Homo sapiens: one gene and its partner. The protein of the gene in region 1 interacts with the protein of each later gene in a pairwise test. Each region holds a gene or a part of one and is shown in the gene's direction. Other genes may lie near its edges. The genes, in order: INPP5F and TRPV2.

What was found.
Region 2: the proteins of INPP5F (region 1) and TRPV2 interact in a protein complementation assay, tested with the Homo sapiens proteins (one study listed by IntAct).

Annotation. Positions count from the first base shown.
Region 1 is NC_000010.11:119,721,748-119,729,079, forward strand, and holds the start of INPP5F (phosphatidylinositide phosphatase SAC2), read left to right. Parts: upstream 1-4,302; 5' UTR 4,303-4,515; coding exon 4,516-4,612; intron 4,613-4,748; exon of another isoform or gene 4,749-5,109; intron 5,110-7,332. UniProt on the Homo sapiens protein: Inositol 4-phosphatase which mainly acts on phosphatidylinositol 4-phosphate.
Region 2 is NC_000017.11:16,432,537-16,437,730, forward strand, and holds the end of TRPV2 (transient receptor potential cation channel subfamily V member 2), read left to right. Parts: intron 1-1,037; coding exon 1,038-1,162; intron 1,163-2,353; coding exon 2,354-2,433; coding exon of another isoform or gene 2,434-2,441; exon of another isoform or gene 2,442-2,445; intron 2,446-4,252; coding exon 4,253-4,353; 3' UTR 4,354-4,467; downstream 4,468-5,194. UniProt on the Homo sapiens protein: Calcium-permeable, non-selective cation channel with an outward rectification. Seems to be regulated, at least in part, by IGF1, PDGF and neuropeptide head activator. May transduce physical stimuli in mast cells.

The DNA of each region.
Region 1 (7,332 bases):
CAGCCTCTGCCCGGCCGCCACCCCGTCTGGGAAGCGAGGAGTGTCTCTGCCTGGCCGCCCATCGTCTGGGATGTGAGGAGCCCCTCTGCCTGGCTGCCCAGTCTGGAAAGTGAGGGGCGTCTCCGCCCGGCCGCCATCCCATCTAGGAAGTGAGGAGCGCCTCTTCCCAGCCGCCATCACATCTGGGAAGTGAGGAGCGTCTCTGCCCGGCCGCCCATCGTCTGAGATGTGGGGAGCGCCTCTGCCCCGCCGCCCCATCTGGGATGTGAGGAGCGCCTCTGCCCAGCCGCGACCCTGTCTGGGAGGTGAGGAGCGTCTCTGCCCGGCCGCCCCGTCTGAGAAGTGAGGAGACCCTCTGCCTGGCAACCACCCCATCTGAGAAGTGAGGAGCCCCTCCACCGGGCAGCTGCCCCGTCTGAGAAGTGAGGAGCCTCTCCGCCCGGCAGCCACCCCATCTGGGAAGTGAGGAGCGTCTCCGCCCGGCAGCCACCCCGTCCGGGAGGGAGGTGGGGGGGGTCAGCCCCCCGCCCGGCCAGCCGCCCCTTCCGGGAGGGAGGTGGGGGGTCAGCCCCCCGCCCGGCCAGCCGCCCCGTCCGGGAGGGAGGTGGGGGGGTCAGCCCCCCGCCCGGCCAGCCGCCCCGTCGGGGAGGGAGGTGGGGGGATCAGGCCCCTGCCCGGCCAGCCGCCCCGTCCGGGAGGGAGGTGGGGGGGTCAGCCCCCTGCCCGGCCAGCCGCCCCGTCTGGGAGGTGAGGAGCGCCTCTGCCCGGCCGCCCCTACTGGGAAGTGAGGAGCCCCTCTGCCCGGCCACCACCCCGTCTGGGAGGTGTGCCCAACAGCTCATTGAGAACGGGCCAGGATGACAATGGCGGCTTTGTGGAATAGAAGGCGGGAAAGGTGGGGAAAAGATTGAGAAATCGGATGGTTGCCGTGTCTGTGTAGAAAGAAGTAGACATGGGAGACTTTTCATTTTGTTCTGCACTAAGAAAAATTCTTCTGCCTTGGGATCCTGTTGATCTGTGACCTTACCCCCAACCCTGTGCTCTCTGAAACATGTGCTGTGTCCACTCAGGGTTAAATGGATTAAGGGCGGTGCAAGATGTGCTTTGTTAAACAGATGCTTGAAGGCAGCATGCTCGTTAAGAGTCATCACCACTCCCTAATCTCAAGTAATCAGGGACACAAACACTGCGGAAGGCCGCAGGGTCCTCTGCCTAGGAAAACCAGAGACCTTTGTTCACTTGTTTATCTGCTGACCTTCCCTCCACTATTGTCCCATGACCCTGCCAAATCCCCCTCTGTGAGAAACACCCAAGAATTATCAATAAAAAAAAAATTAAAAAACAAAAAACAAAAAACAAAGTTAAGCCACCTGGACTGCTGACCTGCAACATTAGCAGCCTCCAGGCAGGCTGGGGGAGGGGGGAATATATTTATATAAATATAAATCTCTTCTTTTGGGAGATTTCTCATAGACAAGACTGAAGAAAGTTATCACAGACAACAAACAAGACTATGGACAAGTAGACAGAAGACAGGAGATGATGTTAAAGTCAAATCTCACCAGAGGATACCAAAATCTAATCCAAAGATCTCAGAGATATTGAAGGGCTAAATCGATAATCACAGTTGGCTTATTTACCATCATTTGTGTAGGTTTAACTACGTGGACACATTTCCTCACATTGATTTCAGCACTGGAAGGGAACACTTAGTGATCATCTCTTTTCATAAATAAGGACCCTGAGATCAAAAGAGATTGAGTGAACTGACCAAAATCACACAGAACTGGCTAGAACCAAACTCCTTAGTGATTATACTTAAATTAGCATATATATGCCATACACGTAAAAGAAGATATATAATATGTATGATGGTCATCTGTGTTTAAAAAGGAGAGCAGCATCACGTGAACTTTCCATTAAAACCTGGGTGGCATCGGGGCAGGAGGACCTTGAATTAGGAAGCTGGAAGAGGGTGATGAGGCTGGCAAGTTAGCCACAGGCCGAGGATAGGCTAGCCAGGGAGTGGAGAGGCTGCAGTGGCCAAGGTTCAGGAAGTTCATAGCAGAAACAAGGCAAGGCAACTGTGGCAGTAGATTGGGGATGTGACATCTACCAGGGACAGAAAATATGTGCTCTTTTCACTCTGCTCAGCCAGGCTAGAGCTGTGCCTACCCCACAGCATGTGTTTGGAGCCTGAGGGAGACAGCAGTGTGCATTGGGGTCAGATAATTACAGAAGCATCTCCCCTCCATGTTTTCCTCTCTCCTAAAGACTTTGCTTGTTAACTCTGCATTTACAGGTAACCAAGCCCATATGATGGCATTAGTTAATGACTGACTGCTGTTTTTTTCCAAGCTGCTGTCAGGCAGATTTTACTAATTAATTTCACTTAAAATAGTGGTGTTCAAGCCTGACTGCATAGTAAAGTCATCTGGGGAGCTTAGAAAAAATAAACAAACTGATGCCAGAGCCCCACCCCAATTAAATTCTGATTTAATTGGTCTAAGGTCCAAGCATTGATATGTTTGAAAAATTCCCCAGGTGATTCTAATAGGCAGCCAGGGTTGGAACCATGGATCTAAAACATCAGGAAAAGTTTCAATGAACTAATTAATTGTTTTAAAACAGTTACAACAGCATTGTTTTCTTCACATCTGGCAATGTAATTCATAAAACAATAATGAAATAATTTGCAGGATACAATGTCTTCATAGGATTTTCTCATTCTCATTTTTGCTAAGTCAACACATGGCTGAATTAAACAATCAATCTGAAACCGATGGTTCCACTGAAGCTTCTTATAGCTTCATTACCTTCTTTCTCCAAATCACATCACAAAGATTTGATAGAGTAACCACCTCCCTCGACCTTTATGTTGAGGTGTCTGGACAGCACAGAGGCATGGTACTTAGAAAAGATTCCAGGACGCTTTGTTATCATTGGACTTTCTGTGCTATGGAAATTCAACACTGTGGGCTGGAATAACTAGTCATGTGGAACTCCTTCCTGCTTTTGTACCCTCTCACTTTTACTTGAGCAGAAGGTTAAAAGTATTGCTTTCTGAGAAGTCCCATTCGGTCACTCCTCTCTCTCGCAAGAGAGACAGCTGTTCTCCCTTTTCTTTTGCCTATAAACTTCCGCTCCTAAACTAAAAAAAAAAAAAAAAAAAGTATTGCCTTATTTTTCTCATCTCCTACTTCTTGTCTTTTTCTCTTGTTTCCGATTCAGGCATTAGAGAAGGCAAGGAGTTAGGAGTAGGAAGACTCAATGATTTATAGAACTGGGGGTGTCATAAAAGGTCATTAGTTCAACCACCATCTGAGACCAAGAGACTTCCCCAAGATCACACAGCTAGATAGTCCTCGAACTGGCCCCGGAAGTGGGGGCCTCATTCTCCAGACCCATTCTGTTCAGGATATCAACTGGTTTTTCAAGACAGACTGAGCTCAAGGATGTTTGGGGGAGACTCCTCCTTCCCCGAGAGGGTCTCCATTCATCTTATCCTCGCCAAACGATATTCCTTCCGCTTGCTTCATTAACTGGCTCCATTTGTGAAGTCTTCTCCAAACCGCCCTGCTTAATTCGGGACACAGCAGCACCTGTACATTCCTCCCTTCCTCCTCGCTCTTTAGCCGCGTGCTGCTAATGCTTGTGTGTTTTCTATTGTTACATGCTTTCCCTCGTTGATGTGCATTTATTGAATGCCTCCTGTTGTCAAACTTCTAATAGGGAATACGAAAACAGAAGACGCCTCCGCTTGGCTGTGGGCCTGGCTGGGGATGAACCCCTGTAGCCAGGCCCCGGGGTCTCGCCTGGTTTCGGTACGGGCAGGCAGCGCAGGCCCGCGGGGAACGTACCCCGCACCGCTCCGGGAGAGCGGGTGTGGGGTTGGATTCAGGTCTCGGCCTGGCGAAGCGTGAGCGCCTCCCTGCACGGAGGGGAGGCCCCAGCGGTGGGCGCCTGTCCCCAAGGCCGCGCGGAGGGAGGCGGTCAGTCCAGACCGACTCGGCCGAGCTCCCGAGCTGCCACCGGTGACCACGACAGGAAGGCTGGCGCGCCGGGGGAGGGGCCTGGGCAAGAGCGGGAGGGGCGGGCGGAAGGACGAGAGGGAGGAGGAAAGACCCGCGGGGAGGAGCTGGGAGGAGACACCCGGGAGAAGGCGGAGGAAAGGGCAGGAAGCGGGAGGGAGCTGAAAGGAGGAGGAGGCTGAGGGGCGGAGCCGGGCGCTCGGGGAGAGTAGCCAGCAGAGGGGGTGGAGCCGGGCCTGGGGCGGAGCCAGGGAAGGGGAGGAGCGGGGGGGAGAGGCCTCTACGGCCGCCGCTGCCGCCGCCGCTGCCGGGGCGCGTTCTCCTCCTACCGGTCGGGTGCCCCGGGGCGTTCCCTCTGCCGCTGCTTCTCGGCGCGGTTCCTACCCGGCCGCTCCCCGAGGCGCGGGCTCTGGCGGCCTCGACCGACTAGGACGCCCCGTGCGCCGCCCGCGGGCCGCCGCCTCCCTGGGCGCGCGGGGCCAGCATGGAGCTCTTCCAAGCCAAGGACCACTACATCCTGCAGCAGGGCGAGCGCGCGCTGTGGTGCAGCCGCCGCGACGGCGGCCTCCAGCTCCGACCCGGTGAGGCTGGCGGTGCGGGCGGGGGGCACCCCGGGCCAGGGCGGGGAGAGGAGGGGGCGCGGCCGGACCCCTCAGCCGGGCGGGAGGAGCCGCCTGCGGGCCTGGTGAGGCGGGGCGGGGCGGGCTGCGAGCGCGCGAGCTGTCATTATTCCCTGACTGGAAGGAGCCTGGCCTTTCTCCGAGACAGCGCCGAGCCCCTACCCCAGTGCGGAGCAGAAGGGGCTGGCGACCCTCGTCCTTCCCACCGCGTCACGCGGCCGCCCTTGGGGCTTGGGGCCCAGGCCGAGGGGAGGGGGTCCCCTCCGGCAGAAAGTTCCAGCAAGGTGCACCTGGCCGTAAAGGCCTCTTCCTCCTTGGAGTAGTTCTTACATGGCCTTCGCCAGAAGTTCTGGGTTCGAATTCCGATCTGGAGCGGTTGCGCCAGTTCCGTCTAGGGCTCTGCTGGACACTCACTCCCTGTTGCCATCCCGTGTGTTCTTGGTCCCTTATTATTAAAGGTGTGACTTTACTGTGGTTACCTCATAGGCACTCGGTTTAAAGCCTTTGTCTTTGACTTTAATACCACAGCACAATTAAATTGTATTGTAATGTATAATTTTGAGATTTTTGTGTGACTTGATGTTGTGCGACACAAAATGTATTGTGGGTCCATGTTTGGGTGTCATGTAAGCTGTTCGGAGAGGCTTAAGTCTGCAATTAGCTTGCTTTAGGAAAATGTGTGTGCAGTCGTGGTTTAAACAGAGCAGTCCCTGCCCTCAGAGCGCTGACAGTCCAGTTTCTTGTAAGATGGGGCTGGGTGGCACCTGCCCCTTTTGGCTTGCTAATCCTTTCCTCATATCACTCAGAGATTCTTCCACTTTAGGGAAAGCGAGAGGATAGAGTTCTTTAAGGAAGGAGCCAGAGCTTTTCAGACTTACTTGTAATTCTTATGTGCAGTCTAGACAGAAGGATTACATGATATGAATTGAAAAGGATAAAAGGTTCAGATGAGCTTTTCAGATCACAGCGTGGTATCACTTATAGGATGGTTTTTAAGGACAGGCCCTTTAACATATTATTTCCAATCCCCACAGCAACCTTACAGGACACGTGTGGGATCCTCTTTTTCAGGTGAGGAGAAAGGAGTGAGAGGTTATTAGTAACTCGTTCGGGGTCACAGCCTAGAGTTGAGACACTGACACAGGGCAGTTCTGTGACCTCCAGAACACTTTTGGGCAGGCCCCACTGCTTTCTTAGGAAGGCCTACTAGTTGCTTTGCCAGAGCAGTGAAGGATAACTTATTTTTTTCCTCAGGCTCTGTCTATATTTTCTTGCTATTACGTTGTATTTCCTCTTTTCAGAATGGAGGATAAACTCCTTGGCCCAGATAAAGTTCTTGATGATCTCGGGATAGAGTTATTATGGATAGGCTAATTTTGGCCAGTCTTCTGTCATTCTCTTCTCTGATTTGACCATTTGTCTGGCTTTCTCCCCTTCCCTCCTTTCACTCCCCCAAATTTGGGTAAGGCTTCAGTACAGCTTGAAGTAAAGCAGATTTCAAAATTCCTAGGTTGTCAAAAGAGTCAACTCCTTGGATTCTAAAAGCTTAGACTATTAGAACTGGATGGGACTTAAGATCGTCTCCAACTCATCTGACAACAAACTTTTCTACACCCCAGTTTCTTGAACTATAAAGGCTAACCTGCGCCTAGATTCTTGGATGAAGCCATGCAGTTTGGATTACTGTTTGTTCAAAGTCCATGTCAGAAGGCAAATTTAAAACTTTTTTGGGGGAGGAAAGTAGCTATAGCCTTTGCACTTGAGATTGGCATACTTTTTAGAATATAGCGGGCCACAGACCAAGTAGACCAAATGTCTGGAGGAAGGAAGAGGCCATGTTTCAGAAGTAACAGCCAGTTTTGATCTTAAGGTGTTCAGGATAGCCAGGGAATAAAGAATCCCATGCACTTGATTTTCCTATAGTTTATCCTGTCCAGGACTGAAGATCCTTTCTAACTAATGGCTATTTAAGAATGGCATTTTAATTGAATAAGTGCTTTTCAGATCTTTTTCTGTATATGGAATCATTTAAAATTCTCTTTATTTTATTGGACTTTTCCCCTGTGCTTTTATGGCAAGTTTTGCTGCTGTTTGTAGTGACAGCATTTAAAATCTTTCATTGTTTCCTACTGGTTATTTAGCTGAATAGATTACTAAGTCCTTTTCTTTTTTGAAAGGGCAGTATTATAAGCTCAAAAAAGCTTGTGGGCATCGTGGTTTTTACATTCGTGACTATTGAACAACCTGAAACAAGAGTTTTCCTTTTTCTAGAGACATCAGAAGGATAAGTAATGATGATATTTAAGATTAAAATACTCATTTATTTAGCCTGGAATGTTTGTTACTGTCAACCCCTTTTCCTACCTAGTCCATTCCATAAGACCCAGCTCAGATGCTACCCCTCATCCTTGGGGCAGAATTATTGGCCACCTTTATTGTGTTTCCAGGCATTTTCTACACTTAGTGGACACTTCAATTCTAACCCTTATGCATCATCATAATAAAAGTTTGCCTACTTCTTCCCCGGTGGGAAGTCCCAGTGTGTTCCCCAAGGCAAGGGCTGTATTTACTCCTCATCTTGGTGTCTCTAGGCTTTAGAGTACTTAGGACAGAGAAGGCGTTTTTGTTTGAGTTGAGCTGAATTAAAGTTAAGTCTAAGTTCTCTCTCAGTAATATCATTG
Region 2 (5,194 bases), on another chromosome or scaffold:
CTCAAGTGATCCTCCTTCCTCAGCCTCCTGAGTAGCTGGGGTTACAGGCACCTGCCACCACACTTGGCTAATATTTTTATTTTTTGTAGAGAAGAAGGTCTCACTATGTTGCCCCGGCCTCAGGTGATCCTCCCACCTTTGCCTCCCAAAGTGCTGAGATTACTCCCACCTCCTTTAAGCTCATAGATGTACTTAGGACAGTGCCCAGCACCAAGCAGGTGCTCAATGTGCTACCAGCTACTCTTATCATCATTGCTGTCCAGTGTTTCTTTTTTTTTTTTTTTTGAGTCAAGAGTTTTGCTCTTGTTGCCCGGGCTGGAGTGCAATGGTGCAATCTTGGCTCACTGCCACCTTTGTCTCCTGGGTTCAAGCGATTCTCCTGCCTCAGCCTCCCAAGTACCTAGGATTACAGGCATGTGCCACCACACCCCACTAATTTTTTGTATTTAGTAGAGATAAGGTTTCACCATGTTGGTCAAGCTGGTCTTGAACTCCTGACCTCAGGTGATACACCTGCCTCGGCCTCCCAAAGTGCTGGCATTACAGGCATGAGCCACCATGCCCCACCCTGCTGCCAATTCATTGTTGATCTTGGGGAAGCCCCTTATCTCCTCTGAGCCTTGGTGCCCTCCTCTGCAAGGTTCTGTGCCCCACCTGACTCACTGGTGTGCCTCTGGGCAGGCACATGTGTGGGGTGAGCAAATGAAGTTCTGTTCCTGGTGGTGTGGCAATCTGGAGCCTGGAACGATGTAAGAGCAAGTAGCTGTCCAGTACTCATAAGGTACAGACTTCCCATCAGCTGTCTGAGGCACTTTGTCCTCAGTCTACAAATGGGGAAACTGAGATGCAGAGAGGCTGAGGGCCCAACCCCACACAGGTAACCGGATGTTGGAGCCAGATTCGAATCCGCGTGTTTAGTTGACTTCGCGTTATACTGTGAAGTGCTGCGCGGCACTTCCCTGCTCCGCTTGCCTTGTGTGCCTTTGCCCCCAGGCAGGGTCCCAGGACGTTCTGTCTGATGCATCCTTTGTCCCCAGAAAGCCATCTCTGTCCTGGAGATGGAGAATGGCTATTGGTGGTGCAGGAAGAAGCAGCGGGCAGGTGTGATGCTGACCGTTGGCACTAAGCCAGATGGCAGCCCCGATGAGCGCTGGTGCTTCAGGTGAGTGAGTGGTGGGAGGGTCTCCTGGGGGCCTTGCTGTCCAGCAATCCCTGGGGCCCCCCTGCAGTGCAGGGCACAGCTGCCAGGAGCCAGGTCTGGTGGGAAGGGCAGGCCCAAAGAGCACCAGGGACTGAGCCTGAGCAGGTGAGGTCAGGGGTCTGGATCTCACAAGCCATGGCTGCCACATGACTGGCCATCTGCCTGTCCCAGTGGCTTAAACTGAAGGTCCCCTCCTGGTGATCTCAGACTCCTCCTTGTAGCCTGAAATGTGTTACGGTAAGGAGGCCAAGAAGTCAGAGGGACCCTTGGGTTGCTAGCACTCTAGCATTGCCCTGGCTGCTCTGTGTCCCCCCACCCCCAATTCTGCCAGCCTGATCTCTGAGCTACAACCCCTTCCATGGAGAACATGCCCTTCTGTGTCCAGGAAAGGCTGGGACACTGGGAGAGGGAACCTAGTGACAAACACACAGCTAAAAACAGACACTGTCGGCCGGGTGCAGTGGCTCATGCCTGTAATCCCAGCACTTTGGGAGGCCGAGGCGGGCAAATCACGAGGTCAGGAGATCGAGACCATCCTGGCTAACACAGTGAAACCCCATCTCTACTAAAAATACAAAAAAGTAGCCGGGCGTGGTGGCGGGCGCCTGTAGTCCCAGCTACTCAGGAGGCCGACGCAGGAGAATGGCATGAACCTGGGAGGCGGAGCTTGCAGTGAGCTGAGATCGCACCACTGCACTCCAGCCTGGGCGACAGAGCGAGACTCCATCTCAAAAAAAAAAAAAAAAAGAAAACAACAGCAACAAAAAAAACAGACACTGTCGTGAGGCAGCAGATGAGCAGAGAGACGGAGTCTTGGGCATGAGGAGCAGCCATGATAGGCCCCAGAACCCGGAAGCACAGATACACCTGATCTGAATTCCTCTTCTCTGGTTGTTCTGGGCAACCCAGGCTGCTGTGAACAGCCAGAAGCGATGGATGCTGATTCCTGCAAGTGAGCACCTGCCTCACAGGACAGGGCTCCAAGTGGGTGGCCCAGAACCCTGCAGAGAAAAAGCCTGTCCTCCTCAGGGCCTCTGTGTCCACCAGAGCATCTCTGCATAGTCTCCCAATTTGGGGGGCCACGCCCCTCTCCGGGGTGGGAGGGGAGGCGGTCAAAGCAGGCAAACCTCAGAGCTGCTCTGTTGCCCTCAGGGTGGAGGAGGTGAACTGGGCTTCATGGGAGCAGACGCTGCCTACGCTGTGTGAGGACCCGTCAGGGGCAGGTGTCCCTCGTGAGTAGCCTGGTGACTAGAGCCTCTGCCCTGGGGTGTGTGTCTCTGCTGCTTGGCCACAAAGCCTTGGAGAGTCTGGGGCAGGACCCAGAGACCTCCTCATAGTCCCTTTGCAGATCCCCACATGCCAGCTCCTCTTAGAGGGATTGCCTCCTTAAAACAGTGGTTCCCTCCTTTCCTTTCCACCCACACCTTGCTTTCAGGCAGGAACCAGGGGAAACCTCTGAGGCTGTTAGCGCTTCCACCAGCCCAGCCTCTGGCTGCCCTCTCTCTGATGCCAGTCAGTCACACCCTTTGCCCATTCAATTGGTTATCGAGGGTCTGTCCCCAGCCAGGCCTGGGCTGAGCCTGGGGACTCAGCAGGGGAATAAGTTAGGAAGGGCTGTGTCACAGCGCAGCCTACAACAGAGGCAGCATCTCCCTGGACCCTCAGAGGAACTGCCCTGCATAGGCCCTTAGTCCCTTCACACCCCAAGTCCCCCACCTCTGAGAAACCACTTCCCATGCTTCCTCCATGTCCGTGGCCTGTGTCCTCTCCGTTCCAGTGTAGTGATGGCCCCTCCTGTCCCCACCCTGCTGCCTCCACCAAGACTGGTTCCTTCCTCCCACCCTCAGAGGCCTGTTCTGAGGATTAGCTGTCCCCACTGCATACCCTTTCTTTCTAGAACCTTCAATAGCTCCCACCTTCCACTGGTTCACCTCCTCTCCTTTCTCCATCTCTTTCCTGACAAATTTCACTTGCTTGTGCCTGTTGCCCCCCACAATAGCCTCCTGAGTCTCCCATGGCCCCTGTTGTAGGGAGGCTCCTCTGGCCTCTTCTGCCCCACAGCCTGCTGGTTTCCCAGGCTCCTGGGCCGTGACCACTGCCTCACATACAGATAGGTTTCCCTTCACCTTCTCTTTGCATCTCCCTCTCTTCACTACAATGCCAGGAAAGTCACCTCTGAAAGTCACCTTGTCCCTCCCTCATCTTGCCCCAAGCACTCCACACCCCACTGCCTGCTGGGGCCTCCAATGTGACATTCCCAACAGGAACAGCCTCGGGGCTGCCCCAGCAGGTCACATGTATGTCACCCCACCCCCTCCTCACCCAGGTGGAAGGCCTTGAGAGTCTCAGCCTATTCCCCCCGCTATACCAGCTCTCCCACCTGGAGCTGAGTGTCCTTGACCCCTCAGGCGGCCACTCATCCCTCTGCCCTGCCCTGCCTCTTACTTCTGCACCACTGCAGGGGGGCCCAGCCTGCACTCTTACCCATTGCAGTCCTGCTAATGTGGACAAAAACCACATGCAGCCCACGCTACACAATGCCTCCCACTACCTGGAAGGCCGCACTGCTCAGAATGGAGGTCAGGGCCCAAAGCTGTCTAACTCACTCCCCACACCTCCATCCACATGTCTGCAGTACTCCTTGTTCTTTGCTTTCCTTGGTTCATCTCTGGATTCGTCTCTGTCGGAAGTGCTCTTCCTCCCCTCTGGATGTCCAAATCTGCCACCGCCCCTGCAGGACAGGTCCCCTCTCTCCTCTGAGCTCCCCCAGCATGTCTCAGGTGTTCTGATCTCTGACACACAAGTCTGTCACCTCCAGGCACTTTAAGCTCCTGGGGGTGGCAGGGGCAGGGGGAAGCCCCTGATATGGCAGGGGATTGGGAAATGCTTGTGGAGTGAGGGAAGCAGGGAGAAGGATTGCTGGCCTCCAGGATCGCTGAGGCTGTCCCCACGGCATGACGTGTTTTCATGACTGTGGCCCCGTTTCCCTGGTGCCTGCTTCCTGGGGACACACTCAAGGGTTAAGCTACAGTGCTTGCCATCTGTTTACAGGAACTCTCGAGAACCCTGTCCTGGCTTCCCCTCCCAAGGAGGATGAGGATGGTGCCTCTGAGGAAAACTATGTGCCCGTCCAGCTCCTCCAGTCCAACTGATGGCCCAGATGCAGCAGGAGGCCAGAGGACAGAGCAGAGGATCTTTCCAACCACATCTGCTGGCTCTGGGGTCCCAGTGAATTCTGGTGGCAAATATATATTTTCACTAACTAACTCTTCTGGAAACATTATTTGGGCAGAGTTGCTGGGACCCTTAGAGCTGGCAATGTCTGCATGTCTCTGTGTGCACAGGTCTGTGTATGGGACTAGGTTGCTCCTGCCCTTGCCTGGGCACAGAGACCCTCAGTTGCTGTGTCCCCACCCTCACCCCCACATCCCCAAGTCTGGGGACTGTCCTCTTCCTGGGTACAGGCAGCTGGCTGAGGTGCTGTGCCCATTGTTGTGGCAGATATATGGTGATGGACATGGGCAAACAGCCACCTCTCCTCTCTCTCCACCACGACACCCTTTGCTTTCCACACCCACCCTGCTTTTGGGCAGGTACCTGGGAAAACCCATTAAAGCCACCTCTCTTGCTTTCTCTTCCTACCGAGCTTCTTGCTCAATTCCCACCCCTCCCAAGCCATTCTCTGCAGGGCAGCCAGAGGGCCTTCCTAAGACATAAGACAAACATGTCCTCTTTGTGCTCTGAAGGCCTGAGAGGCTCCCCAGTACCCACAGAATGCCCTAGCTGACATCCCGAGACCCCCACGGTTTTGCCCAAGCAGTTCCAGACACCTCCTCCCCTCCACCTCTGTTGCCCCTCCCTCCTTAGCACTCTCCCCAAATTCATGCAGGCCGAGAGACCTCGTGCTTGATCCCTTGACCTGGCTCTTGCTGGAAGCCCCCCTCCTCCATTAAAACCCTACACTTGGGGGTGGGGGGAGGGATAGCATTAGGA